Regions from separate parts of the Homo sapiens genome. Here region 2 is linked to region 1. Evidence: fine-mapped expression QTL. A gene starts in region 1. The other region holds a variant in brackets. All regions are shown on one strand. Distances are between the middles of the regions.

Region 1 (15,723 bases):
AGAGTCACTTTGGAAGCCAGTTTGGCAACTTCTTACAAATCTAAACAGTCTTACCATATAATCCAGCAACTATGCCCCAGGTATTTATACAAATGAAAACTTACGTCAAAGCAAAAATAGAAGACACACATGACAAGCATCAGATATGAAAAGAAGTTATCATTACTGAATTCACAGACAAGAAAAGACTAACTGCTCTGCGCACATAAATTTGGTTAAGTTAGTTGAAAAGGACATATTCCTTGGAAGACGCAAATTACCAAACTTACTCAAAAACAGATAAACTTGGGCCAGGCGCCATGGCTCACGCCTGTAACCCTAGCACTTTGGGAGGCCGAGGCGGGCAGATCACAAAGTCAGGAGAACGAGACCATCCTGGCTAACATGGTGAAACTTCGTCTCTACTAAAAATACAAAAAAATTAGCCGGGCATGGTGGCACATGCCTGTAGTCCTAGCTGCTCAGGAGGCTGAGGCAGGAGACTCACTTGAACCCAGGAAGCAGAGGTTACAGTGAGCCGAGGTCGTGCCACTGTGCTCCAGCCTAGGCGACAGAGCGAGACTCCGTCTCAAAAAAACAAACAAACAGATAAGCTTAATTATTACATATCTATTAAAGAAATAAAATTTGTAGTTAACAGCATACAGATTGGAAAGAAACAAAACTGTCCTTTTTTACAGAGAGAGTAAGGAAACTGAGGATGCCAACGAAAAGATGAAGATGACACGACTGTTTATGAAGAAAATACCAAAAAACCTAAGAAAGTTCCTAGAACTAACTAGTGAATGTAGCAAGGTCACAGGATACATGGTCAATACATAAAAGTTGGCTATATGCCTATATAACAGCAATAAATCATTTGATTTTGAAATTAAGAAACTAGCTGGATGCCGTGGCTCACACCTGTATTCCCAGCATTTTAGGAGGCCGAGGCAGGTGAATCACTTGAGGTCAGGAGTTTGAAACCAGCCTGGCCAACATGGTGAAACCCTGTCTCTACTACAAATACAAAAATTAGCCGGGTATGGTAGTGCGCACCTGTAGTCCCAGCTACTCGGGAGGCTGAGGTAGGAGAACTGCTTGAACCCAGGAGGCAGAGGCTGCAGTGAGCCCAGATTGTGCCACTGCACTCCAGCCTGAGTGACAGAGCAAGACTCCATCTCAAAAAAAAAAAAAAAAAAGGAATTAAGACACTGATACTGTTTACAACAGCAACAACAAAACAGAAAGAACTTACATATAAATCTAAAATATCTGTGTAGGATCTGTATGCTCAAAACTATAAACATTGACTTTTAAAAATCAAAGATCTAAATAATGGGGGAATCCTGTGTTCATGGATTTGAACTCAATCCCAAAGGCACTGTAAATCGAAAAGTGAAAGGTAAAGTAATAAAGTAATAAAGAAAAAGATCTTTATGAGCTTAGGATAAGAAAACAATAGGACACAAAAATCATTAGCAATAAAATAAAAAAATTTGCAATCCAGACTCAGTAAAAGTTAGAAATATCTGTTCATCAAAAGTAAGCATTAAGAGACTAAAAAAGCAAGCCAATATTGGAAGTAAAAGAAGCACCCGAGGAAAAAATTTGAATATAGGCTTCATAGTAAGTTTGTTTTAAACTTTAATGTGCATGAATCACTGAATCTTATTAAAATGAAGAGTCTGATATTAACAGCATTGAGGTGAACTCTGATATTCTGCATTTCTAACAAGCTTCCCGAACAATACATATTACGTAAACACACATTTTTTAAAAAAAAGGATACACATAAAACACAAAATAACTTTTTGGGGATGGGAAAGGAGATGAAAATTGAGTATGAGGAAATAAGAGAATATATAAATAAAGGTAGATAAGGACCTTACATGAACCAATGATGATAAAAGGGCCATGGGCCAGGCACAGTGGCTCATGACTGTCATCCCAGCACCTCAGGAGGCTGAGGCAGGAGGACTGCTTGAGCTTAGGAGTTGATGACCAGCCTGAGCCACACAGGGAGACCTCCTCTCTACTAAAAATAAAAAACATCAGCCAGGCATGGTGGCACTTGCCTGCTGTCCCAGCTACTCAAGAGGCTGAGGCTGGAGGATCACTTGAGCCTGGAGTTTGAGGCTGCAGTGAGTTATGATTGCACCACTGCGCTCCACTCTGGGCAACAGACCAAGACCCTGTCTCAAAAAAAAAAGTGGGGGGGTTTTGAACTGAACTGAGGAGTGATTAACTTAACCCTCTGACCTAAGGATCTCCATCCCTCTCTGCACCAAAAAAAAAAAAGGTAATAAAGAAAACACTAGGAATAAACAAATGAGAAGCTCACCCAGGACTTGGTGATTTTTGGCTGCTCTTGGGAAATAAACAGCCACTCTAGGACTTTCTCTATTCTGCGACTCTTCTGCTTCTGCCTGGGTGTTCCAGGGAGAGGTTGCAGACCAGGAGTCCCTTGGCCCAAGATGGATTCCTGACCTTGGAGCTTTCTGATCCTATCCCATGAACTGTTTCGTTCTTGGAGAGGTGGGACCTGTGGACTCAAGAGCAAATTTACTTTAGCGAGCATTATTTCCTTTGGGGAAAAGGAAATAGGGGTCACATCACATAAATGTGAGAGAAACACGTTAGAAAACAAGGCAGGTTTAACTTCAGGAAATGCAGGGTTAGAGGCAGAAAAGAAATGGCTTCCTGACAAGGCTTAGCACCAAGAGTTCAAGTCAAGTTTTGAGCCCTTCATGATAAAAATACAGGTACGACCCTCAAACAGCAAAGCTAGAGAAAACTGTCCTGGCTCATCCTAGCCTCCAAACGGACTTCCTGCCACAAACCAAATGGCGTCTTAATAGGCTGGTTTGGTAGGGCAGTAGGAATACCCACACAACATTATTATGAGGGAATAAGGAACCAAACGAGGCTCTGACAGACAATAAAAACATAACCAAAATATCTGACCACATAAAAAATTGTAACATAATATTTCAAAATGAAGTAAAAGAAATCAGAAAAACGAAACTTTGAAAGGACAGATATATAAAAAATAAAAGAGCCTAGAAAGTAGATGCTTAGAAATGTGAAATCTGGAAAATGTGAAATGAGAAATATCAGAATAAATAAATAAATTAGGAAAAAAATTCAGAAATGAAGATTAAATTTAGGAGGAACATAAAAAAGCGCCAACGACCTAGAAGGCGGCACAGGTGAAAAGTGGGGAAAGCCTAAAAAAAAAGGAATAAAAAATTAGAAAAAGAAACAATGAATGAAATGCCATGAAAAGGCTGTTCACCAAGGCATTTTTATAACCCAAATATCTGTAACTACATAACTGGTTGAAAACACTATGGGCCATCCATACAGCCAGTAAAAGGTGATAAGAGATAGGGAAGAGGGAGCGAACAACCTCTATGTACCACTATTGGTATAATACAATGATCAATATATACTCTTAGTGATAATGACAAGGGGAAGAATAGTACGTACAGAAAGCTAGCTTTTGTGTTACAAAAAAGAAGTGGGATTGCAAGTATACGTATACGCATGTGTGTGCCATATAAATGGGATCATATAATATCTAGTCTTTTGTGTCTGGCTTCTTTCACTTCGCATAATGCTTTCAAGGTTTATGCTTGTCATAGCACATATCAATAGTTTGTTCTTTTTGTTGGTGAATAGTATTCCATCACGTTTCATCATTCACCATTAATGGACATTAAGATTATTCCCTGGAGGCTGGGCGCAGTGGCTCATGCCTGTAATCCCAGAACTTTGAGAGGTCGAGGCAGGTGAGTTGCCTGAACTCAGGAGTTCGAGACCAGCCTGGGCAACACAGTAAAACCCCGTCTCTACTAAAATACAAAAAAAAAATCAGCCAGGCGTGGCAGCGTACACCTGTAGCCCCAGCTACTTGGGAGGCTGAGGCAGGAGAATTGCTTGAACCTGGGAAGCAGAGGTTGCAGTGAGTGCCACTGTACTCCAGCCTGGGCAACAGAGTGAGACTCCATCTCCAAAAAAAAAAAAAAAGATTATTCCCTGGAGACCAACAGCTTATGTCTCAGAGCCTTCTCTGTGTACACTGGGCACAGTCTACCCGCTCCACATTTTACTCTACATTTCAGGGTCTAGGATCCTAGAATCTCTGCCTCAAGAAATCCTCAACCTACATCCAGAGACTAAATAAGGTACACAGGCCAGGAAAATGCATGTAGAGCCAGAATATCTGGGTTCAAGTCCTGGCTCTACATTGACCAGGGGTGCCACCTGGTCTCCAACTAGCCCTTTCTGGACCTCAGTACCCTTACCCATCAAAGGAGAAAAACAGTATTCACCACCTGGGGCTAGGGCTACTGTGAAGTTTTAAGGTGATAATACCTAATAAATGATTTAGCACAGAACCTCATACGTAGTAGACACTGAGCATTAACATTTGGTTGAAACGGCAAAAGAAAACAAAACAAAACATAAAACCAGGAATACTTAATGAAAATAAACCACACTACAAAATGACAATCAACAAGATAAAAAGCATATGCTGGTTCTTAGAAAAGAGGACTCCACCTTCAAACATCCCCCAACTCTGACCAGTGTCTCCATTTCTACCACACTACACAAAATCCCTGCTACCTCTTGTCTGAACGTGGTCACCTAGTCAGTCTCTGGCTTCCCCCTCTTTCTGTGCCTACTCTTGCCCACCTACAACCTGTCCCCCACTCAGCACTCAGAAGGGTCTTTGGAAACCCTAAGCAGCTCACGTTGCTCCCTGTCTTAGCGCCACACACTCTCCCGGGCCCCATGGCTTCCCAGCCTGATCTGGCCTCTGCACCTGTGTTCATCTGCTCTCCTCTCTCTCACTCCCTACCCCCAGTCACAAAGTCCTTCCTTCCAGGTTACCTGATCTGGCCTCTGCACCTCTGTTCATCTGCTCTCCTCTCTCTCACTCCCTGATCTGGCCTCTGCACCTGTGTTCATCTGCTCTCCTCTCTCTCACTCCCTACCCCAGTCACAAAGTCCTTCCTTCCAGGTTACCAAGGCATCAAACTTCTCTTGCCTCGCAGCCTTGGCCCTGGCTGTTCCCATCCTGGATGTTCTTCTACCTGCTCTTCCCAAGGCTGGCTTGCTATTGTAACTCAGACTTAGCTTAGACGTCACTTCCTCAGTGGGGGCCTTCCCTGAGCACCCAAGCTAAAGTAGCCACCACACATTCTTTGTTTTTTTTTTTTTTTTTGAGACAGAGTCTCACTCTGTCGCCAGATTGGAGTGCAGTGGCGTGATCTTGGCTCACTGCAACCTCCTACTCCTGGGGTTCAAGCGATTTTTCTGCCTCAGCCTCCCGTGTAGCTGGGATTACAGGTGCCCACCATCACGCCCAGCTAATTTTCATATTTTTAGTAGAGACGAGGTTTCGCCATGTTGGCCAGGCTGGTCTCGAACTCCTGACCTCAGATGATCTGCCCACCTTGGCCTCCCAAAGTGCTGGGACTACAGGCGTGACCCACCACACACAGCCCATCACCACTAAATTCCATTTAGGTTTTTATGACTGCTACGGTTTCAATGATTGCATCCCTCCAAAATTCATGTTGAAACTTAACCCCCATTGTGATGGTATTAAGAGGTGGGGCCAATTAGCTGGGCATGGTGGTGCGCACCTGTAATCCCAGCTACTCAGGAGGCTGAGGCAAGAGAACCACTTGAACTCGGGAAGCAGACGTTGTGGTGAGCAGAGATAGCCACTGCACTCCAGCCTGGAAGACAGAGCGAGACTCAGTCTCAAAAAAATAAACAAATAAATAAATAAATAAAGAGGTGCGGCCTTTTAATAGTGATTAAGTCATGACGGCTCTCCTTCAGGAATGGGATTAATACCCTCTTAAAGAGGTTTCAGAGAGCTGCCTGGCCCTTTCATCTCTTTGGCCATGTGAGGACACAGCATTCTTCCCTTTTTGCCCCCTTCCACCATGTAAGGATGTAGCAAGAAAGTGCCATCTTGAAAGCAGAGAGCAGAGCCGGGTGCGGTGGCTCACGCCTGTAATCCCAGCACTTTGGGAGGCTGAGACAGGTGGATCATGAGGTCAGGAGATCGAGGTCATTGTGGCCAACACAATGAAACCACGTCTCTACTAAAAATACAAAAAAAAAATTAGCTGGGCGTGGTGGCACACGCCTGTAGTCCTATTTGGGAGGCTGAGGCAGGGGAATCACTTGAACCCGGGAGGCAGAGGTTGCAGTGAGCCAAGATCGCGCCACCGCACTCCAGCCTGGGGACAGAGAGAGACTGTCTCCAAAAAAAAAAAGAAAACAAGAAAGCAGGCCTCATCAGATACCAAATTCACCAGCACCTTGATCTTCAACTTGTCAGCCTCCAGAATTGTGAGAAAGTAGTATCTGTTATAAGTTCCTCAGTCTGTGATATTTTGTTACAGTAGCACAAACAGACTAAGACAATGATCTAATATTACTTGATCTCCCTCATACATGTCACTTGACAAGCATTTTTGAGGTTTCCATTTCTTTAAGTGTGAATTACATGTCTCTATTTTGTCTTACTTTTCTTGGGTTCCATCTCAGTCTTCAACACCTCTTCCCCTGCTTTCTCTTGTCATTTCCCTGACCACTGTCCTCAGTTCTCTTCTTAGGGTACACATTCTCCCTGAGCTACTTTGGCCACACCTAATTTGCAACCTCTACCTAGAGGAGCCAATCCATACAAAACTGAAATCTTCCCCCTCTACCAATCACAATTCTGACAGTCTTCCCTTACTCAGCAAATGGTGACACTCCCAACCAGGCCCACAGAGTAGAACTCCAGTTGTCATCCCTGGCTTTTCTGCCTCTCTTAGCACTGCACCCAACTAGTTATGAAATCTAATTTCTTCTGCCTCTTTACCTCCTCTCCTTTTTTTTTTTTTGAGACAGAGTCTTGCTCTGTCACCCAGGCTGGAGTGCAGTGGCGCGATCTCGGCTGACTGCAACCTCTGCCTCCTGGGTTCAAGCGATTCTCCTGTCTCAGCCTCCCGAGTAACAGGGATTACAGGTGGGAGCCACTGCACCCAGCCACCTCCTCTCCTTTCTCAAAACCACTAATTTACTTAAACCCTTATATTCTCTTACCTGCTGCAGACTAGACTGTTCTACCCTCAAATCCGTTGTGAAAACACTTCAATAAGTAAACTCCTTCCCCTATACCAACAGTCCCCAACCAGGGACTCGTTTTGTGGAGGACAATTTTTCCATGGACGGGCAGTCGGGTGCGGCGATGGCTTCTGGATGAAACTGTTCCACTTCAGATCATCAGGCATTAGAGTCCCATAAGAAGTGCGCAACCTAGATCTTTCGCATGCGCAGTTCACAATAGGGTTTGTGCTATGAAAAGCTAATGCAGCCTCTGATAGGAGGCGGGGCTCCGGCAGTCATGCTCACTAAACCGCCACTCGCCTCCTGCCATGCACCCCAGTTCCTAACAGACCACAGACTGGTACCAGTCTGAAGCGTGGGGGTTGGGGACCACCTGCCCTATGTGATACAATCCAAGTTTTTAATGGGGTCCTCAAAGCCCTCTATGATCTTAGGCCTACGGCTCTAGCCTCATTTTTTAATATAACTCTACTATCACCATTAAACTCAACATTTTAGCAACCCTAAAGTGCCCAAAGTTCACCACATGAGGTCATTTCAAGCCTCTCAAATTTGCACGTTACTTCTTTTTCCTAGGCTGGTTTTAATCCTTTGTCTACTTTAGGTTTGTCATCTTTCAAACCTAAGGTTAAGAATCTCTTAATCATTGAAGCATTTGGGAGTAAGGGGTTAGGGGGTGTCCTTACTTCCAAAACTGACCCATTCCTGCATGTCTCCGTGTATTTCCACAGCCTGCTCCCAGAGCACTCATTAACTTGTCATTGTCTTTCTTATCCACCATTCCTAGACCACTGTTCTTCAAGACAGGGATGATAAGCAACCCATCTTTGCATTTTTAGCACCTGCCCCAGGGTCCAGCAAACAAAATACAATAAAAAAAAATGTTGAACAAGTGAATAAAAAAGTTTGTAATTTCCAAAATAAGGTTTAAAGATCCCAGATACAGAAGGCCCTCAGTAAATAAAGGCTGAAAAAACTGAAAGATGTGTGAGTATCCCTTGTTTAACTCCAAAGTTCAGCGTACAAAGTTGTTAGAAAAGAGATTGATGAAAGGAGGAAAAAAGGAAGTCGGATGACAAGAAGCATTTCTGGAAAGTCTAACATGCTATAAATGACGATCCAGTTGCCTAAAAGAGCGGTGGGGTGAGAAAGCTCCTGGCAAATTCAGACTGGAGTAGATGGAGTGCGCACACGTTGGCATTCAGGGAGAGCTTTTCAAGAATGAAAGAAAACCCCTACTCACCCAAATAGAAGCTGTCCGGACCCTGGTGGCCATCCCTACGGTCAGTTTTGTGTGCCTCGCTGGAAGTGACAGGACGCGAGGGATGCTAGAAGAGAGAGCACAGTGAAGAAAGAGGTCACCCAGCAGTCCCCAAACCCAGAGGGGGAGGGTCCGAGGCACCAGGGCTGCCTGCCATTCTCGGAGCTGAGGCTCCTTCCCTCCCACAGCACGGGATTCACCATCTCCACACCCTCACCAACACACAGGTTAGGGTCAGGCAACCGCCCCGGGTCAGCAGCAGGAGAGAGCTAAGGCAGATTAGTTCTGTCCCGTCCCGCCGCCTTGAAACCGGAGGAATTCCGCACCTCCGGCTCCTCCAAACCCTGAAGGGGCAGCAGAATAGAGTCCAGGGTACTGCCTCCACCTCCAGATCTGCAGCCAGAAGGGTTCGCAACCACTCCAGACTCGGCTGGCCCGTTGACCACGACGGGCGATGAACGCTATCTGAGGAACAAGGATCTCGCCATCGGCGCGGAACAATGGCGGCCGCTACGTATGTCGCACAGGAATTGCGTCATGGAGAGGCAAAGGCAAAAAAACTACAACTCCCAGAGGCCTCTGCGAGGAGTTACTCCCGCGCCGGAGGGCTCCGGCCAAGGGCCACCGGGAGGGGGCGTGCTAAGATGACCCGGAAGCTCAGGCCTTCCTGGCCAGGTCCCTGAGCTCCCGCGCTTGCAGGTTTTAAATTTTAAAGAGAATTAAAATACTTGACACCAATGGCTCAACGGTTGGAGGGATGTAAATTAGGTTACAAGTGTTCTAGTCCCTGCTTTACTGAAATGGTAAAAGTCTTATTTTGCTTTACACTTTAATAACAGATTCGTAAAATTCCCATTACATGTTAACATAAATAATATTTTAATGAAAATTACATATATTTTACAAAAGAAAAAATTTAGTAAGGAGTGGCTTCGCTTTTTAAGTCTTTTCTGACTTACTAGAAAGCTGGATTCTCATATCTGCTTCTATGTTTAATCTGTTGCGTATGTTGTTTTTGTTAAAGTATATAAAGATACAAGTCGAACAAGGGATAGTTTTGTTAGTGTACAATCTGAAACCACGTAGATGAACTTTTTCTACTCTATTACATAAAATCCGTTGGTCTACACTGCACTTTGAATGGATTCTTTTATCACGCATGATTTCGTAACATCATGTATTGGCCAGTTGGAAAATATTGGTTTACTTTAATGGCAAAAGCCGCAATTACTTACTTTTGCACCAACGGAAAATATCCACTAATCATTATTGATCTTAAGTATTGGGAAGAGGTGACATTCACAGAGGCAGATACAAGTTTTCTAGAATTCTTTTGTTTTTGGCTTTTAAAAACTTTTATAAATTTATGAGGTACAAGTGTAATTTTGTTACATGCATCAGTTGTGTAGTGGTGATGTCAAGGCTTTTAAGGTATCCACGCCCTATAGTACGTTATATGCATTGTACCAGTCAGGTAATTTATGATTATCCCTGAAACCCCCCCACACCTTTTGAGTCTTCATTGTCTATCATCCCACACTCTACATCCATGTGTACATATCCTTTAGCTCATACTTAAAGTGAAAACATGTGTTTTTCTTTCTGTGCCTGAGTTGTTTCACTGAAGATAGTGGCCACTAGTTCCATCCATGATGCTGCAAAAGACAATTTCATTCTTTCTTATGGCTGAATAGTATTCCATTGTGTATATATAACACATTTTCTTTATTCATCCATTCATGGACATTTAGGTTAATTCCATACCTGTGATATTGTGAATAGTGCTGTGATAAACATATGAGTGCAGGTATTTTTTTTATATATATAATGATTTCCTTTGGGTAGATACTCAGTAACAGGATTGCTTTATCAAATGGTAATTCTATTTTTAGTTCTTTGAGAATTCTCCACACTGTTTTCCATAGGTTATACTAATTTCACTTTCTCACCAACAGTGTATAGGAGTTTCCTTTTCTCCACATCCTCACCAACATCTTCTTTGTCTTTTTATTTTTATTATTTTATTTTATTTTTTGAGACGGAGTTTTGCTCTTGTTACCCAGGCTAGAGTGCAGTGGCCCGATCTCGGCTCACCGCAACCTCCGCCCAGGTTCAAGCAATTCTCCTGCCTCAGCCTCCTGAGTAGCTGGGATTACAGGCATGCACCACCACACCCGGCTAATTTTGTATTTTTAGTGGAGACAGGTTTCTCCATGTTGGTCAGGCTGGTCGCAAACTCCCGACCTTAGGTGATCCGGTCACCTCAGTTTACCAAAGTGCTGGGATTACAGGCATGAGCCACCGAGCTCGGCCTGTTTTTGTTTGTTTTGATTTTTTTTTCCTTTTGAGACGGAGTCTCGCTCTGTCGCCCAGGCTGGAGTGCAGTGGCGCGATCTGGGCTCACTGCAAGCTCCGCCTCCCGGGTTCACGCCATTCTCCTGCCTCAGCCTCCCAAGTAGCTGGGACTACAGGGGCCCGCCACCACGCCTGGCTACTTTTTTGTATTTTTTAGTAGAGACGGGGTTTCGCCGTGTTAGCCAGGATGGTCTTAATCTCCTGATCTCGTGATCTGCCCGCCTCGGCCTCCCAAAGTGCTGGGATTACAGGCGTGAGCCACCGCACCCGGCCCGGCCTGTCTTTTTAATAACAGCTACTGTGACTGATGTAAGATAATATCTCTTTTTTTTCCCCCACAACCTCGCTCTGTCGCCCAGGCTGGAGTGCAGTGGCTTGATCTCGGCTCACTGCAACCTCCGCCTCCTGGGTTCAAGCAATTCTCCCCGCCTCAGCCTCCCAAGTAGCTGGGATTACAGGTGCCCACCACCATGCCCGGCTAATTTTTGTATTTTTTATGAGAGACGTGGTTTCGCCATGTTAGCCAGACTGGTCTTGAACTCCTGATCTCAGGTGATCTGCTCACCTCGGCCTCCCAAACTGCTGGGATTACAGGCGTGAGCCACAGCGCCCGGCCTCATTGTGGTTTAAATTTGCATTTCTCTGATGTTTAGTGATGATGTTGAGCATATTTTCATATGCCTGTTGGCCATTTGTATGTCTTCTTTTGTAAAGTGTTATTTGTGTTCTTTGCCTGCTTCTTAATGGGATTATTTGGGTTTCGTTGTTGTTGTTGATCTGTTTGAGTTCCCTGTAAACTCTAGATATTAGTCCCCTCTTGTATGCAAAGCTTGCAAAAATTTTCTCCCATTCTGCAAGTGTCTCTTCACTCTGCTTACTGTTTATTTCACTATGAAGAAGATTTTTAGTTTAAGTCCCATTTCTCTCTTTTTCTGTTTGTTGCATGTGCTTTTGAGGTCTTAGTCATGAATTATTTACCCAGACCAATGTCCAGAGGGGTTTTCCGTAGGTTTTCTTCTAGTATGTTTATAGTTTCAGGTATTCCATTTAAGTCTTTAATACAGCTTGAGTTGATTTTTGTATATGGCGAGAGATAAGGGTCAAGTTTCATTCTTCTGCATATGGCAATCCAATTTTCCCAGCACCATTTATTGAAGAGGTTGTATTTTCCCCATGCTTGTTCTTGTTGACTTTGTCAAAGATCAGTTGGCTGTAGATATGTGGCTTTATTTCTGGGATCTCTATCTGTTCCATTGACCTATGTGTCTGTTTTTATACCAGTACTATGCTGTTTTGGTTATTATAGCCTTATAGTATAATTTGAAGTCAGGTGAAGTTATGCCTCCAGCTTTGTTCTTTTTGTTCAGGATTGCTTTGGCTGTTTGAGCTCTTTCTCGGTTGCATATGAATTTTAGGATTTTTTTTCTTTTTCTTTTTCTTTTCTCTTTTTTTTTTTTTTTTTTTTTTTTTACACAGAGTCTCACTCTGTCACCCAGGCTGGAGTGCAGGGTCATGATCTCGGCTCACTGCAACCTCTGCCTCCCAGGTTCAAGCAATTCTCCTGCCTCAGCCTCCAGAGTAGCTGGGATTACGCGTGTGCACCACCATGCCCGGCTAATTTTTGTATTTTTAGTAGAGATGGGTTTTCACCATGTTGGCCAGGGTGGTCTTGAACTCCTGACCTCATGATATGCCCATCTTGGCCTCCCATAGTGCTGGGATTACAGCTGTGAGCCACCGCACCCGGCCTAGGATTTTTTTTCTCTAAATCTGTGGAGAATGACGTTGATATTTTGATAGGGAGTGCATTGAATCTGTAGATGGCTTTGGATAGTATGATAATTGTAACATTATTAATTCCTCTGAACAGCATGGGATGTTTTTCCATTTGTTTATATCATCTACAATTTCTATCATCAGTATTTTGTAACTTTCCTTGTAGAGAGTTTTCACCTCTTTGGTTAAATGTATTCTGAGGTGAGCTTTTTGTAGCTATTAAAAGTAGAATTGCCTTCTTGATTTTGTTCTTAGCTAGATGTTGTTAGGGTACAGAAATGCTACTGATTTTTTGTTTTGATTTTGAATACTGAAGCTTTCCTGAATTCATTTATCAAATCTAATACTTTTTCAGTGGCATCTTTAGGTTTTTCTAGATATAAGATTATATCATTTGCAAACAGGGACAATTTGACTTCCTGTTTTCCAATTCAGATGCCTTTTATTTCTCTTGCCTGATTGCTCTGGCTAGAACTTGCAGTACTATGTTAAATAGCAGTAGTGTAAGTGGGCATTCTTGTCTTGTTCCAGTTCTTGGAATGTTTTCAACTTTTCTCTCATCAGTATGATGTTGGCTGTGAATTTGTCATATGTGGCCTTTACTATTTTTTAGTATGTTCCTTCTATGCCTAGTTTCTTGAGGATTTTTATCATGAAGGGATGCTGAATTTTATTAAATGTTTTCTCTGCATCTATTGAGATGATCGTGTGGGTTTTGTCCTTAATTAGGTTTATGCAGTGCATCACATTTGCTGATTTGTGTATGTTGAACCATCCCTGCATCCCTAGTATAACACTCACTTGATCATGTGTATTATCATTTTCATGTGCTGTTAAATTCAGCTTGCTAGTATATAGTTAAGGATTTTTGCATCTGTGTTCTTGAGGGATATTGGTCTATAGTTTTCTTTTTTTTGTTGTGTCCTTGGTTTAGGAATCAGGGTAACATAGGGCCTTGTAGAATGAGGTAGGAAGAATAATTCCCTCCTCCTCAATTTTTTGAAACAGCTTTAGGGGAATTGGTATTAGTTCTTTGTACATTTGGTAGAATTCGGCTGTGAATCGATTTCACCCTAGGCTTTTTTGGTGGGGGAGATATTTTATTATTGATTCAATCTTGCTCCTTATTATTGGTCTGTTCAGGGTTTTTCTTTGTTCATGTTTCAATCTTGGGAGGTTGTATTTTCCAGGAATTTATCCTTATAATCTAGGTTTTATAGTTTGTTAGTATATAATTGTTCATAATGGTCTCTAATGATCTTTTGTATTTTTGTGGTATCAGTTGTAATGTCTTCTTTTTCATTTCTGATTTTGTGTATTTGGATATTCTATCCTTTTCTTGGTTAGTCTACCTAGTAGTTGTCAGTTTTAGGGTTTTTTCCTTTCAAAGAACCAATTTTTGGTTTTATTGGTCCATTATATTGTATCCATTTTTGTCTCTATTTCATTTAGTTTTACTTTGACCTTTGTTATTTATTTTCTTCTGGTAACTCTGGGTTTGGTTTGTTCTTATTTTTCTAGTTCCTTGAGAAGTAATGTTAGGTTGTTAATTTGTAATCTTTCTGCTTTTTTGATATGGGCATTTAATGCTATCCACTTCCCTCTTAGCACTGCTTTTGCTGAATCCTATAGGTTTTGATATGTTGTATTTCCATTTTCATTTGTTTCAAAAAACTTTTAAATTATAATCTTAATTTTTTCACTGACCCAGTGATCATTCAGGAGCATATAGTTAATTTCTACATATTTGTATGGTTTCGAAAGTTCCTCTTGTTGTTGATTTCTACTTTATTCCCCTGCAGTCTGAGAAGATAATTGATATGATTTTGATTTTTAAAAATTTGTTGAGACTTGCCTTGTGGCCTAACATATGGTCTATCTTGGAGAATGTTCCATGTGCTGATGGGAAAAGTGTATATTCTGCAGTTGTTGAGTAGAATATTCCATAAATATCTGTTAGGTTTGCTTGGTTTGAAGTCCAATTTAAGTCCAATGTTTCTTTGTTGATTTTCTGTCTTGATGATGTGTCTACTGCTCTGAGTGGGTGTTGAGGTCCCCCACTACTATTGTATTGCTGTCTATCTCTTTCCTTAGAACTAGAAATATTTGTTTTAGGAATATGGGTGCTCTGGTGTTGGGTGCATATACATTTAGAATTATTATATCCTCTTGCTGATTTGATCCTGTTATCATATATTGATTTTCTTTTTCTTTTTCTTTACTGATGATTTAAAGTCTGTTTTATCTGATGTATATCTATTTCTGCTCACTTTTGGTCTCCATTTGTGTGGAATATCTTTATCCACCCCTTTTTTTTTTAGTCCATATGTGTCTTTACAGGTAAAGTGAATTTCTTGTAAGCAGCATATAGTTTTATTATCTTTTAAAATTCATTCTGCAAATCTATAGCTTTTAGGTGGAGTATTTATTCCATTTACATTCAAGGCTAATATTGATATGTGAGGTTTTGTTCTTGTCATATTGTTGTTTTCTAGTTGTGTTATAAGTTTTTTATTTCTTTCTCTTTCTCTGTCTCTTTGTGCTTTGGTGGAATTCTGTTGTGTTGCCATTTGATTTATTTGTCTTCCTCCTCTGTTTAATTATTTTATAAGACCTGTGAGTTTTATACATTCATGTATTTTTATGATGGTGAATATTAGCCTTTCATTCCCATAGTTAGGACTCTTGAGCATTTCTTATAGAACCAGTGTAGTGGTGACAAATTCCTTCAGTGTTTGCTTGTCTGGGAGGGGCTTTATTTCTACTTCATTTATGAAGCTTAATGTTGCTGGATATAAAATTCTTGGCTAAGTTTTTTTCTTTTAGCACTTTGAAAATGCCACCCCATTCTGCTCTGTCCTGTAAGGTTTCTGCTGAGAAGTTCACTGTTAGTCTGATGGGGTTTTCTTTGTAAGTGACTAGGCGCTTTTCTCTTGCTGATTTTAAAATTAGTTCCTTCTACTTTGATTTTAAGCAGTCTGAAATTGTATGCTGTGTTGAAATCTTTTTTGCAATAAATTTTCTGAGGATTGCTGGACCTCCAGTATCTGAATGTCCAAATCTCTGGTTAAACTTTGTAAGTTTTCGTCGATTATTTATTTCAATAGATTTTCTACCCTTTTTTATTTTTCTTTCCCCTCAGATGACAGTAATTCATAAGTTCAGTCACTTTATGTCGCCCTAAATGTCTTGAGGGTTTTGTTCATTCT
Region 2 (15,723 bases), 190 kb after region 1:
TCGGCCCAGACAGAGGACTATTCTAGGGGAAAGAGAAACCAGTGAAGGTTTTGATGTGCCCCAGTGGACAGTGAGTTTTCCCCATGGGACATCTGTTGAGTGCTGGTCAGTGCAAGAAGCTGCAGGCTGGGCTGGAATGGCAGACTGAGTCTCCCGCAGCCTCAAGGTGCTCCAGAAACAAAGTACCAGTAGAGAGGAGCCTGCAATAAATATACCATCCAGAAACCCGAAGACACAGGTAACAGAGTACAGCCCCTAAACAGCTCAATTCCTGTTTTGATTGAGGTGATCAGCCATTCCCCTACTGCATGACAGAGAAAAGGGGAAATATCCTCTGATATAAAACAACAGTAAGGTCAGGTATGGTGGCTCACCCCTGTAATCCCAGCACTTTGGGAGGCCAAGGTGGGTGGATCACCTGAGGCCAGGAGTTTGAGACCAGCCTGACCAACATGGTGAAATCCCGTCTCTACTAAATATACAAAAATTATCCAGGCATGGTGGTGGGCAACTGTAATCCCAGCTACTGGGTAGGCTGAGGCAGAAGAATTGCTTGAACCCAGGAGGCGGAGGTTGCAGTGAGCCAAGATCGCGCCACTGCACTCCAGCCTGGGCGACAGAGCAAGACTCTGTCTCAAAAAAAACCACAACAGTAAACTTCAGTCTCTGTGGTTATTCCTTTTAAAACAATGTCAGCAAAAAATTAAAAACTTTGAGACATGAGGCAGGAAAATATGACTGACAAAAGGAATAGGCAGATAATTGATAAAGATGCACAGATGATCCAGATGATGTTAGCAAACAAGTAATATTACAAATAACTATCATAATATATAACTATGTAAATATTTAAAATACAGAGAAGTTGTATACAGTGAATAAAAGGAGAACTGGAATTAAAAAAAAAAAAAAACAAGGAGACATTTAGAAACAAACAACTGATCCCTGAAATGAGCATCAACGGGACAATGGCCAATACAAGTCTGTTAAGGATGTGGAGCAAACCATCCTTCTCGTGGGGTTGTGTTACTGTCCAGTGAGCGCATGGTGAGGGCAATACTGCTAACGCCTACACAACACACCCACATCAACTATGGTGGTGCAATTTTTTGAAAAGTGGAAAACCTCTTTTCCATGAAAATAAAAAGGGATATAGAGCAAATGCAGTTCTCAATTCCTGGTACTGGGAATGTGAAGTCATTTCGCCACTTTGGAAAACTAAGAGTATGTACTAAATTTAAATATACGTATACAATGACTCAACAGTATCATTCGTAAGTATGTGCCCAGTGGTTCTCAATGGGCAGGAGGGAGATTTTGCCCCCCCGGGGGCATTTGACAATGTCTGGAGCCCTTTATGGTTGTCATAGTGGGGCAGTGCTACTGGCACCTACATAAGTCGGGGCCAGGAATGCTGCTCAGCAACCCACGATGCACAGGACGTTCCTCCACAACAAAGAATTATTCCATCCAAAATGTCAATAGTGCTGAGGTTGAAAAATCCTGGTATGTGCCTAACAGAAATGATAGTTGATGTCTACCAAAACAAATGTACAAAAAGGTTCAAAGTCGTGTTATCTAAAATAACCAGTAACTGAAAACAACCTAAACACTGATGTTGATAACAGATTATTACAACAGACAAATTATGAAATGTTCATACAACAGAATATCATACAACTTCACAAAAATAAGCCAACACAAACATTTTAAGGATATAAACATATGCATTAAAAATGTACAGGGAAAGACCTAGAAGAATATCTATCAAACTGATTACCTCCGAGGAGAGAGAGGGGATTGGGATGGGTGGGTGGTTATAAGAGACTGAATTGTGTTCTAAGAGAATCAACTGTATCATCAAAAATTAATAGTTCCAGTTCTGCATGTAAAGAGTTTGGAAGTAGCCACTCTGTCCTAACAAGTAAAAAGTTTAACAAACTGAAAAATCAACAACTCTTCTTAGATCTGAAAGAGAAGTGAAGATACAAGGCAAACAAACCACTGTCCCCAAAATTAGAGACAGGCAGAAACACAGTAGTTACCAGATCACAAATCTCTGTGAGAAAGCGTCAGGACAGAAATACCTGAACTGCAACTGACAAATTGCTAGAGGCTAGGTGTGTACATGTTTGAAGTTAAAAAGTCCAGGGGGACCCAGTCATGGTGGGAGTGGAGGGAGACAAAGTCCCAAGCTTTTCTGAGTTTTACTTTCAGGAGCTCAACCAGGTTCCCAGAGCCTAATATATTGGGGTTTTGTCAGAGCTTAACTAACCTGAGGGAAGAGAGATATACCAAATTCCACCCTGTCCCATCTAAGAGATGGGGTGGGGGTGGCCTGGGAAATACTTGTGAGGTTGAGAGTCCAGGAGAACAGGCTCACAAAGAGACAGACCTAATCAGGGGCCTACAGAATGCTCACCCTTTCCTGACATCTCATCACCACATTAGTAAAGTACTATTAAAAGTAATTCCTTTTACTCAGTACATCATGTCTAGCTATGAATGTAAAGGGACAAGGCAATACTAAAAGGCAAAAAAACATAGGGCAACCACGCGCCGTGGCTCACGCCTGTAATCCCAGCACTCTGGGAGGCCGAGGGGGGTAGATCACCTGAGGTCAGGAATTCGAGATCAGCCTGGCCAGTATGGTGAAACCCCGTCTCTACTAAAAATACAAAAATCAGCCGGGCATGGTGGAGTGCACCTGTAGTCCCAGCTACTCGGGAGGCTGAGGCAGAAGAATCACTTGAACCCAACAGGCGGAGGTTGTAGTGAGCCAAGATCACACCACTGCACTCCAGCCTGGACTCCATCTCAAAAAAAAAAATAAAAACAAAAACAAAAACACAGACAGGGCAAGCATCAGAACCAGACATGATAGGGATGTTGAAGGTATCAGACAAAACTTAAAACAACCATGAATAATATGTTATGGGCTCTAGTGAATAAAGTAGGCAGCATGTAAGAACAGATGGGCAGGCCAGGCGTAGTGGCTCACACCTGTAATCCCAGCACTTTGAGAGGCTGAGGTGGGTAGATCACTTGAGGTCAGAAGTTCGAAACCAGCCTAACCAACATACTGAAACTCTGTCTCTACTAAAAATACAAAAATTAGCTAGGCACGGTGGTGCGCACCTGTAGTCCCAGCTACTCAGGAGGCTGAGGCACAAGAATGGCTTGAACCTGAGAGGTAGAGGCTGCAGTGAGCCCAGATCGCACCACTGCACTCCAGCCTGGGCAAGAAAGTGAGACTCCATCTCAAAAAAAAAAAAAAAGAAATACTAGTGATCAAAAACACTGTACAGAAGTGAAGAATGCCTTTGATGGGCTTATGTATTATGTAGACTGCACGAGATTGAGGAAAAAAATCTTTGAACTTAAGGATGTATCAACAGAAACCTTCAAGCAAAGAGAACACTGGGGAAAAAAAAAAAGAACAGAATATCCAAGATGGACAGCCACAAAAGGTGTAGATATGCACAATGGAAATACCCGAAGGAAAGGAAAAGAACAGAAGAAAGACAGTCGGTGCCTGACGCACAGTGGTTTGACTTAGTATTTTTCAATTTTACAATGGCGCAGAAGCAATACACTTCAGTACGTTCCCCAACTTATGATGAGGCTCCATCTGGATAAACCTATTATAAGTTGAACATATTGTAAGTCGAAAATGCACTTCTGACAAAGAGATTTTCAATTTATGATGAGTTTATCAGGATGTAACCACATCATCAAGTCAAGGAGCATCTATATATGAAACAATAATTACTGAAAATTTCGCTGAAGTAATGTCAGACACCAAATCACAGATGGAGGAAAATCCGAGAATACCAAGAAGATAAATGCCAAAAAACCTGCACGTAGGCATATCATTTTTAAAACACAAAAAATCAAAGATAAGCCAGAGATGAAAAAAAATACCTTACCTACAGAAACCACACAAGCAAGAAAATGGAGTGAAACAGTTAAGGTGTTTAGAGAAAAAAAAATCATCAAAACAGAATTCTGTACCCTGCAAAATTATCCTTCAAAAGTAAAAAAAAGTCTTTCTCAAACAAAAACTAAGATAATTTATTGCTATTTCAAGTAAACTTGCCTTAACTAGGCAGAAAAGGAAAATACAGGTCAGAAACACAGATACACTTTTTTTTTTTTGAGATAGGGTCTTACCCTGTTGCCCAGGCTGGAGTGCAGTGGCATGATCTTGGCTCACTGCAACCCCCGCCTCCTGGGTTCAAGCGATTCTCATACCTCAGCCTCCCAAGTAGCCAGGCCTACAGGCACGCACCACCATGCCCAGCTAATTTTTGTATTTGTAGTAGAGACAGGGTTTCACCATGTTGGCCAGGCTGGTCTCGAACTCCTGACCTCAAATGACCCGCCGGCCTCAGCCTCCCAGAGTGCTGGGATTACAGGGATGAGCCGCCAGGCCCGGCCACAGATATATATTTTAAAAAGTGAGAACATCAAAGAAAGAATAAGTGAAAGTAAAATTAAAATTTTTTTTCTGATCATTTTTTTGAGACGGTCTCGCTCTGTTGCCTAAGCTGGAGTACAGTGGCACAGCAGCCTCGAACTCCTGGGCTCACCTCACCATCTCACCTCCCAAGTAGCTGGGGCTACAGGTGCACACTAGCACACCTGGTTTTTTTTTTAGGTTTTTTTTTTTTTTGTTGTTGTTGTTGTTTTGTATAGGCAAGGTCTCTGCGTTGCCCAGGCTGGTCTCAAACTCCTGGCTTCAGTCTCCCAAAGTGCTGGGATTACAGGCATCAGCCACCATGCCTAGCTATTTTTATTTTGTTGTTGTTGTTGAGTCTCGCTCTGTCGCCCGGGCTGGAGTGCAGTGGCACGATCTTGGCTTACTGCAACCTCTGCTTCCTGAGTTCAAGCGATTCTCCTGCCTCAGCCTCCTGAGCAGCTGGGATTACAGGTGTGTGCCACCATGCCCGGCGCTAACTTTTGTATTTTTAGTAGTGACAGGGTTTCACCATGTTGATCAGGCTGGTCTTGAACATCTGACCTCGTGATTCACCCGCCTCGGCCTCCCAAAGTGCTGGGATTACAGGCCTGAGCCACCACGCCCAGCCATGCCTAGCTATTTTTCTTATACTTAGTTGACCTAGTCTGTTCAAAATAGTAATGGAGGCTGGGCACAGTGGCTCATGCCTGTAATCCCAGCACTTTGGGAGGCTGAGGTGGGTGGATCACTTGAGGTCAGGAGTTCGAGACCAGCCTGGCCAACATAGTGAAACCCTGTCTCTACTAAAAACGCAAAAATTAGCCGGGCATGGTGGCACACACCTGTACTTCCAGCTACTCGGGAGGCTGAGGCAGGAGAATCGCTTGAACCTGGGAGGCAGAGGTTGCAGTGAGCCATGATCATGCCACTGCACTCCAGCCTGGGTGACAGAGTGAGACTCTATCAAAAAAATAAAAAGAAAAAAGGACAATAAAGGAACATCATACTATGTACAATTCTACGTCCACACATTTCATGACCTAGATGAAACAGACCAAATCCCTGAAAGACACAATCTGCCAAAACTGAACAAAAAGAAACAGACACTCTAATAAGCCTAAATTGAATCAAAAATTAAGAATCACCCAAACCAGAAAGTGCCAGGCCAAGATGGGTTCACTCACTGGTGAAGTCTACCAAACATTTAAGGAAAAAAATCACACCAATCTTTTTTTCCCTCTACAATATTTTTCAGAAGATAAAGGCAGAGGGAATCCTAACTCAGTCTATAAAGACAGCATCGCTCTAATACCAAAACCAGACAGAAACCCTAGAAAACTACAGAAAAATTATCTCATAAATATAGATACAAAAATCCTCAACAAAATACTAGAAAATAAAATACAACAATGTATAAAAACAAGTGTACACCACAGCCAAGTGGGATTTATTCCTGGTATGTAAGGTTGGTTCAATACTTGAATCAGTTCCATCGTATCAAATGACTAAAGAAGAAAAAGCATAGATAGATGCAGAAAAAACTTTTTTTCTTTTTTGAGACAGGGTCTCGCTCTGTCACCCAGGCTGGAGTGCAGTGGTGCAAACATGGCTCACAGCAGCCTCAACCTCCCAGGCTCAAGCAATCCTTCCACTTCAGCCTCCTCAGTAGCTGAGACTACAGGCATGTGTCACCACGCCCAGCTATTTTGTTTTTTAATTTTTTGTAGAGATGGGGTCTCACTATGTTGCCCAGGCTGGTCCTGAATTCCTAGGCTAAAGCTATCCTCCTGCCTCAGCCTCCCAAAGTGATTACAGGTGTGAGCCACATCTGGCCCAGAAAAAAAATCTGACAAAATCCAACCCCATTCACAATTAACAACAACAAAAACCCTCACTAAACTAGGAACAAGGGTCTTTCTCAACTTGATAGAGAATATCTACCAAGAAAAATGCTACAACTAACATCATACTTAACTGTGAGAAACTTGAAGCTTTCCCACTAAGATCAACAAGGCAAAATGTATCTTTAATCCCCTCTCACCACTCTTTTTCAACATTGTACTGGAAGTCCTATCTGAGGCAAAAAAACAAGAACAGAAAATACAGGATGAGAATCCCTGTTCCAAAAACCTGAAATCTAAATGCTCCAAAATTCAAAACGTTTTGAGTCCTCACACGTGGAAAATCCCACACATTAACTTAATACAACCTTTGTTTCACACACAAAATTATTTAAAATACTGTATAAAATTACCTTCAGGCTGTACGTATAAAGTATATATGAAACATAAACAAATTCTGTGTTTAGACTTGGGTCCCATCCCCAAGATATCTTATGTATATGTAAATAGTCCAAGATCTGAAAAAATCCAAAATCCAAAACAATTCTGGTCTTAAGCATTTTGAATAAAAGATACTTAACCTGTAAAATGTATAATGACTGTGAAGGAAGGAATAAAACTTTGTTCACAGATGGCATAATTGTGCAAAGTCCAAAAGAATTCACCAGACCCGGCACGGTGGCTCATGGCTGTAATCCTAGCACTTTAGGAGGCCGAGGTGGGCTGATCACGAGGTCAGGAGATCGAGACCATCCTGCTAACACAGTGAAACTCCATTTCTACTAAAAATACAAAAAAATTAGATGGGCGTGGTGGCACATGCCTGTAGTACCAGCTACTCAGGAGGCTCAGGCAGGAGAATCGCTTGAACCCAGGAGGTGGAGGTTGCAGTGAGCCGAGATTGTGCCACTGCACTCCAGCCTGGCCAACAGCGAGACTCTGTCTCAAAAAAAAAAAAAAAAAAAAAAAAAAAATTCACCGAAAGACTCCTGGAACTACATGATTATACCAAGGTTGCAGGATACAAAGTTAATATACAAAAGTCAACCCCTTTCCTGTACACAGGTGTAAGCTGAATTTGAAATAAAAAACACAATACCATTTACAGTAGCACCCACAAAAATTAAATACTTAGGTGTAAGTCTAACAAAATATATAATGATACTATATAAAATCTATATGAGAAAAACTACCAAACACTGCTGAATGAAAACTAAGAACTAGATAGAGAGATATAACATGTTCATGGATAGGAAGACTCAATATTCAAGACTTCAGCTCTTCCCAACTTGATCTACAGATTGAATGCACTGTCAGTTAAAATCCCAGCAAGTTATTTTGCAGATGTTGACAAACTGATTATAAAGTTCAGACAGACAAAAGACTTAGATTAGCTAACAGGATACGGAAGCAGAAGAATACATTTGGGAGAATGAACCTGACTTCAAGACTTATAGGCTGGGCATGGTGGCTCACACCTGTTATCCCACCAATGCTTTGGGAGGCCAAGGAGGAAGAAGTGCTTGAGGCCAAGAGTTGCAGGCCAGCCAGGGCAACACAGTGAGACCCTATCTGTACAAAAAAAAAAAAAAATTTTTAATTAGCCTGATGTGGTGGCATATGCCTGTAATCCCAGCTACTCAGGAGGCTGAGGTGGAGGATCCCTTGAGCCCGGGAGTTCGAGGCTGCAGTGAGTTGTGACTGTTCCACTGCACTCCAACCTGGGCAACAGAGTGAGATCCTGCCTTGAAAAAAAAACAAAAGATTTACTATAAAGACCAGCCTGGGCAACATGGCTAAACTCCATCGCTACAAAATATACAAAAATTACCCGGACTGGGTGGCATGTGCCTGTAATCCCAGCTACTCGGGAGGCTGAGGCTCAAGAATCGCTCGAACCCGGGAGGCAGAGGTTGCAGTGAGCCGAGATCGCGCCACTGCACTCCAGCCTGGGCGACAGAGCGAGACTCCGTCTCAAAAAAATAAAAAAAGACTTATTACAAAGCTACAAAAATCAAGACAGTGTGGCAGTGTGGTATTAGTGAAACAACAAATAGATCAATAGAACTCAATAAAGAGCCCAGAAATAGACCCATATAAATATAGTCAACTGATCTCTGACAAAGGAACAAACTCACAGGGGGAGAAATCCACTCCTAACTTTCTCTCGTTTCTTTAGCACAACAGCCTTTCTCCACCGTGTGTCCTTTCCTTTCATTAACCTGAGTCCTCACCTCGGTCCTCTTGAGGGTTCCAGTTGGTCACACTCTGAGCTTCCACGAATACAATAAGGTGTCTTTATGTATTTCCAGTTTAGACCTCCCATGTGAGTTACAGGCTGAAATACAGGCATTGGATATTCAACACCTGCGAAAGTCATTCCCAGGGTCCCTCTTCCAATAGCATTCCTAGTCTCCGGCTGTATAGCTCAATGGTAGAGCACCACATCCGGCAACGTCGTCAACACCACTCACCGAGGGCAAAGGATTTGGCAATCAAATCACTTGTAAAGACTCCCCTCTGGTTCACTCCATCAATAATTCATAAAGTCCCGATGATCCACTGGCCCGCCCCTTACCTTTCGGACTCTCGAGCTCCGCTCCTAGCCTTTTCTCCCTATTCATTCACCTGTAATTGCGTCCATAGTTCACTAGACTACCCTCTCCACCAAACCAAAGCTCCTCTAAAATTAGGAACATACATAATTTATCTCTGCATTGCCAGCACCAGCCTTAGAGTCCAGCAGACAAAAGGACACTCCATAAACAAGCATTTGGCCAAACGAAAAAGGAGGAACTGATCATTTCTCCAGCTAAGTTCTAAGGGTCTCCATAAGACAACTTTGTGTAGAAAACATGAAATGATGGAGGATCCTCAGACTTCAGGGCCCGCAGCTGGCCATGAAGTGCAGTATAACTGCCCGTCACAGAATACCACAGGCACGTTTCTGCAGGGCCAGAGCTTGGGCGAGCTTCAGAGGCGCTTTGGTTTGGTGGGGAGGGTAGTCTAGTAAACTACGCACACAATTACAGCTGAATGTGAGTTCAGTTCCCGGAGTAACCCTGAAGAGATTAACGTGGCCACCCTCAGTATCCAGTCGAATTTTAAACACGGAAAGTCTCTACTTACCCAGCACGAAGCTGTCCGGAAACTGGTGGCCATCCCCACGCCCACGTTCGCGCGCTGCCTGCGGGGGCAGGACCCGCGGGCTGCGGAGAGACCGTGAGGGATGCGTCCGCCCGAAGACAGGTGCGGGACCAGGGCCCCAGGCTCCTGACCGTCCCGGGGCCGAGTCGTTGGCAGGGACGCCGGCTCCTCAGCTCTCGCCCAACACAGACCGCGCGTGACTAGACAACCTCCCGGTCTGGGTACCAGGAGTCGCACGGATGGATTTGTGCCTTTCCGTGGCCCTGACTCGGGAGAGCAGGAGGCTGATCTGGCCCCGTCCACGCCCCGGACCGACGGAAGTGTT[T/C]AGCTGGTCAAGTCTCTGGTCTGCCCAGGATAATCCGAGCCGCTTAGCTCCGCGCCTCCGCGGCCACAGAGACTCAGCCAGGTACACCCGCTGGCCAGATTCCGGTCCACTGAGTCTAAGCCGGAAACAGCCCTGCACGCGCGCACCCGACTAAGGCCGGGAGTGCGGCGCATGCGGAAGTGCGTCCTGCGTCGATGCGCCAGGACGCGAAGGCGCCGGAAAAACTACATCTCCCACAATCCTCGGAGAAGGCTCCCTCGTTACAGGCCTGGCTTCCAGCTGCCGCGGATCTAGAGAGGGGCACAGCCTGACGGGAAAGGAAGGCTGGGAGGGGGCTCCGCCAGCGGCACCTGGTTCACCCTCCCACGGCTGCGCCAGGTTCAGTACCATCCTCGGAGCCTGGACGCCCAGTTTCCCAGGGCCTGTAGAACTGACTCAGAGTCCGACCCCAGCAGAGACGCAGGCGTGCTGAGGTTTTGATATCAAACAAGATAGGGTTCAGACCAGAAGGCACAGCAAAAAAGGACGCTTTGTAAAGCTAAAAGCTGCAGTTCATAGGGTTAAATAACAGTTTTGAATATCAGTGCACCAAATAATACAGTAACCAACTTCATAAAGGAGAAACTATAGTAGATGTGAAAAACAAATAAATAGAACCACACCAGTAATGAAACTGCCTTTGCAAAAATTATATCAGTGAGAAAATTATAGCAGTGGGGGAGGTCTAATCTAACCAAACCCCCAACTCTGCGCGCCTTTGGCTGTCAAGATGCCTTCATTATTCCTGGGCTTAGGCCAAGCTAACTTTGGAAGACATTTAGGTTATAGTTCAAATGATAGCCCTTTTCCAAAACCCAACTGCCTTTGTAAAACCTATGAGAGACCACCAAGCTAGCGGGAGGAGAGGAGCCTGAATTCTGCTAAGATGTGGATTGGTCACAAGACACGCAACTTCCCCAGTTACTCCTACAGATAACACCACTATTGTAGATTGGCCTTTTGAGATTTAAAAATGTGCAAAATGGCCAGGCACGATGGCTCACGTCTGTAATCCCAGCATTTTGGAGGGCTGAGGTGGGTGGATCGCATGAGCCCAGGAGTTGGAGACTAGCCTGGGCAACATGGTGAAACCTCGTCTCTACAAAACATATCAAAAGTAAGCCGGATGTGGTGGCATGCATCTGTAGTCTCAGCTACTTGGGGGGCTAAGGCAGCAGAATTGCTTGAGCCCGTGAGGTGGAGGTTGCAGTGAGCCGAGATTGCACCATTGCACTCCAGCCTCGATGACAGGAGTGAAACCCTGTCTCAAAAAAAAAAAAAAAAAAAAAGTGCCAAACATCTGAATAGACATTTCTCAAAAGAAGACATACAAATGGCAAACAGGTATATGAAAAGGTACACAATATAATTGATCATCAGAGAAATGCAAATCAAAACTACAACGAGATATTATCTCACCCCAGTTAAAATGGCTTTTATCCAAAAGACAAGCAATAATAAATGCTGGTGAGGATATGGGGAAAAGGGAACCCTGGTACATTCTTGGTGGGAATGTAAATTAGTACAACCACTATGGAGAACAGTTTGGAGGTTCCTCAAAAAAATAAAAATAGAGCTACCATACAATGCAGCTATCCCACTCCTAGGTATATACCCGAAAGAAAGAAAATCAGTATATCCAAGAGCTGTCTGCACTCCCTTGTTGACTGCAGCACTATTCACAATAGCCAAGATTTGGAAGTAACCGAAGTGTCAATCAACAGGTTAATGAATAAAGAAAATGTGGTACATATACACAATGGAGTACTAGGAAGCCATAAAAAAGAATGAGATCCTGTCATTTGCAACAACATGGATGGAACTGGAGATCATTATATTAAGTGAAATAAGCGAGGCAGAGAAGACAAACTTCACATATTCTCACTTATTTGTGAGAGCCAAAAATTAAAACAATTGAACTCATGGTGATAGAGAGTAGAAAGATGGTTACCAGCAGCTGGGAGGGTAGTGGGACACTGTGGGGGATGGAAATAGTCATTTGGCAGAAAAAATAGTTAGAATAAGACCTAGTATTTTCTAGCACAACAGGATATACTCAAAAATAATTTAATTGTACATTTTAACATAACTAAAAGTATAATTGGATTGCTTGTAACACAAAGGATAAATGCTTAAGGGTACCCCATTTTCCCTGATGTGATTTTTATGCATTGCATAATAATCATTGCATTATAATATGCATTCTATATCAAAATATCTCATGTAATCCATAAATGTATACACCTACTATGTACTCATAATAATTAAAAATTAAAAAAATTAGCCAGGTGTGGTGGCATACACCTGTAATCCCAGCTACTTGGGAGGCTGAGGCAGGAGAAATGCTTGATCCTGAGAGGTTGAGGCTGCAGTGAGCCATGATCCCACCACTGCGTTCCAGTCTGGGCAACACAATGAGACCCTGTCTCAAAAAAAGAAATTAATTAATTAAAAATTTTCCCACAGAGAAAATCTGGGAATGGATGGCTCCACTAGTGAGTTCCATCAAATACTTAAAGAAGAAAGGATAATTCTTTACAAATTCTTTCAGAAAATAGATGAGAGGGAATACTTCCCAACTTATTCTATGAAGCCAGTATTATTCTCATACCAGAGCTAGACAAAGACATCACGAGGGAAAAACAAAACAGAGCTACACACCAATATTCCTATGGTGTGTAGTACCATAGACATAGACACAAAAATTCTTAAGGCTTGAGAAAACTCTTTTTCTCCTGAAACTGGTTTTGCAGGTGGTTACTCATGTGAAAACTTACCAAATTGTTTAAATACATGCAGTTTATTCTATATCACTTTATAACTTAATAAAGCTGTTTAAGAAAAATGTTAGTAAGCTGAATCTGGCAACATACAAAAAGGATTTTGTAAAATGACCAAATGGAATATATACCAAGAATGAAAGATTGGTTCAACACTGAAAATCAGTATAATAAAAAACAAAAACTATGTGACTATTTCAATAGATGCAGCAAAAGGCATTTAGCAAAACCAACGTCTATTCATGGCAAAAACTCTCAACAATCTAGGAATAAAAGGGAATTTCCTCAACTTGATAATGGGCATTTTTTAAAAACCCTAGCTAACATCCTACAGAATGGTGAAAGACTGAGTGTTTTTCCCCTATAATAGGAAACAAGCAAGGGTGTCTGCTTTCAACACTTCTGTTCAAAGTTGCACTGGATGTTCTAGCCGGTTCTGTTCCACGTTGCACTGGATGTTCTAGCCAGTTCTGTTCCACGTTGCACTGGATGTTCTAGCCGGTTCTGATCCACGTTGCACTGGATGTTCTAGCCGGTTCTGATCCACGTTGCACTGGATGTTCTAGTCGGTTCTGTTCCACGTTGTACTGGATGTTCTAGCCGGTTCTGTTCCACGTTGAACTGGATGTTCTAGTTGGTTCTGTTCAACATTGTACTGGATGTTCTGGCTAATACTGTTCAACGTTGCACTGGATGTTCTAGTTGGTTCTGTTCAATGTTGTACTGGATGTTCTAGCTGGTGCAATCAAGCAAAAGAAAAGAAAGAAAAGGAAGCATCCAGATTGGAAAAAAAAGTAAAATTGGCTTTATTCACAGATGACATAATCCTCTATATAAAAAATTTCTAGGAATCAATAATAATAATAAAACCACTGAAACTAATAAATGATGTTAGCATGGTCAAAGGGTACAAGATCAATATATAAACACTATACTTCTATATACTAGCAGTGAATAATCTTAAAATGAAGTTAAGTAAACAATTTCTTTCACAGCATCAAAAAGAATAAAATAGTAATACATTTAATAAAAGAAGTAAAAATGTGGCCGGGCACGGTGGCTCATGCCTGTAATCCCAGCACTATGGGAGGCTGAGGCTGGTGGATCACGATGTCAGGAGATCGAGACCATCCTGGCTAACATGGTGAAACCCCGTCACTACTAAAAATACAAAAATTAGCCAGGCATGGTGGCAGGCGACTGTAGTCCCAGCTACTCGGGAGGCTGAGGCAGGAGAATCGCTTGAACCCAGGAGGCGGAGGTTGCAGTGAGCCGAGATTGTGCCACTGCACTCCAGCCTGGCAACAGAGCGTGACTCCGTCTCAAAAAAAATAATAAAATAAAAAATAAAAAAGGAAGTACAAACTTGTATGTTGGAAACTACAAAACATTACTCAGAGATATTAACAAATATTTAAATAAACAAAGACATTTCATATTAGTGGATTGAAAGGCTGAATACTATCAATATGGCAATTCTCCTCACATTGATCTATGAATTAAATGCAATTCCTGTCAAAATCCCACCAGACTTTTTGGTAAAAATTGGCAAGCTGAACATAAAATTTATAATGACATGCAAAGAACATAGAATAGCAAAACAATTTTGAAAAAGAATAAAGTTGTAAGACTTACACTACTTGATTTTAAATTTGCTATAAAGCCACAGTGATCAAGACAGTGTGATATTAGCAAGAGGATAAGTAAATAGATCAATGGAAAATAACTAAGGATCTAGAAATACATTGTAACATTTATGGCCAATTAATTTTTGACATAGTTACCCAGATAATTCAATGATGAAAGGTAGACTTTAGTAAATGATTCTGGGTAAATGGATGCCTATATGCCAAAGGAGGAGAAGGAGAAGACTTGCCTTACACGTCATACATGAAAATTAGCTGAAAACGGGTCAGAGACCTAAAAGTAAGAGCTAAAACTATAATACAATAGAAAATTGTTGTAAATTTGGGTTGGGTAAAGAGATTCCAGATATAACAACAAAAGCATGATCCATGAAATAAAAGCATTGATAAATTGAACTTTGTCAATATATAAAAACTTTTGTTTCAAAAGACAGTATGAAGAAAGTGAGAAGACAAGCCACAGTCTAAAAGAAAATATTTGCAAATCATTTATCTGATAAAAGACTTGTATTCAGAACACTTATGACTCAATAATAAGACAAGCAACCCAATTTTGCAAATGAGCAAAAGATCTGAATATATATATATTTTTTTCACCAAAGAAGCTACAGAAATGGCTAATAAGCACATACAAAGATGCTCAACGTCATTATTCATTAGGGAACAGCAAAGTTAACCACAATGAGATACCAGTAAAAATTCAATAGAATGGCTATAATAAGAAAAACAGACAATACCTAGTGTAGGCAAGTATGTGGAGAAACGAGCCTTCATGCTTTGCTAGTGAGATGTAAAAATAGCAGTCACTTTGGAGAACAGTTTGACCATTACTTAAAAAGTTAACCATAAACTTACCGCATGACTCTGCAATGCTACTTCTAGATAGCTAAGAGAAAATGAAAACTTATGTCTGTATAAAGTCGTTTATGATAATGTTTATAGCAATATTATTATTATTATTATTATTATTATTATTATTTTGAGACGGAGTCTCACTCTGGCCCAGGCTGGAGTGCAGTGGCACGATCTCGGCTCACTGCAAGCTCCGCCTCCCGGGTTCACGCCATTCTCCTGCCTCAGCCTCCTGAGTAGCTGGGACTACAGGTGCCCGCCACCATGCCTAGCTAATTTTTTGTATTTTTAGTAGAGACGGGGTTTCACCGTGTTAGCCAGGATGGTCTCGATCTCCTGATCTCGTGATCCGCCCACCTCGGCCTCCCAAAGTGCTGGGATTACAGGCGTGAGCCACCGCACCCGACCAGCAATATTATTTATAATAGCCAGAAACTGGAAACAACCCAAAATGTCTATCAACTGCTGACTGGATAAAGAAAAGTGAAAGCAACTCAAATGTCCATCAAATGATGCCTGGATAAACAAACGTGGTATAGCCATAACGATGGAATACTGTTCAGCAATTAGAAGAGGGGGGAAGTGCTGATACATGCGATGTGAATAAACCTCAAAAACATGATGCTGATGT

What was found. PIP is the estimated chance that this variant, and not a neighbour inherited with it, causes the effect.
Region 2: its variant is fine-mapped to the expression of ZNF268 in whole blood (INTERVAL, PIP 0.95).

The regions. Positions count from the first base shown.
Region 1 is chr12:133,174,673-133,190,395 of GRCh38, reverse strand. It overlaps ZNF268 (zinc finger protein 268), which reads right to left and starts at 8,901. Exons shown (of 6, transcript NM_003415.3): 1 at 8,710-8,901; 2 at 8,366-8,450; 3 at 2,324-2,524. The coding sequence starts at 8,398. RefSeq lists enhancers at 8,514-8,713, 8,754-9,063, 8,659-9,183.
Region 2 is chr12:132,980,583-132,996,305 of GRCh38, reverse strand. It overlaps ZNF26 (zinc finger protein 26), which reads right to left and starts at 9,939. Exons shown (of 4, transcript NM_019591.4): 1 at 9,433-9,939. The coding sequence starts at 9,465. LOC124903064 (a long non-coding RNA gene) reads right to left here. Exons shown (of 2, transcript XR_007063552.1): 2 at 12,596-13,330. It also overlaps the pseudogene RNU4ATAC12P. RefSeq lists enhancers at 9,319-9,368, 9,094-9,593, 9,849-10,318. The variant T/C (reference allele first, on the strand shown) is at 9,776.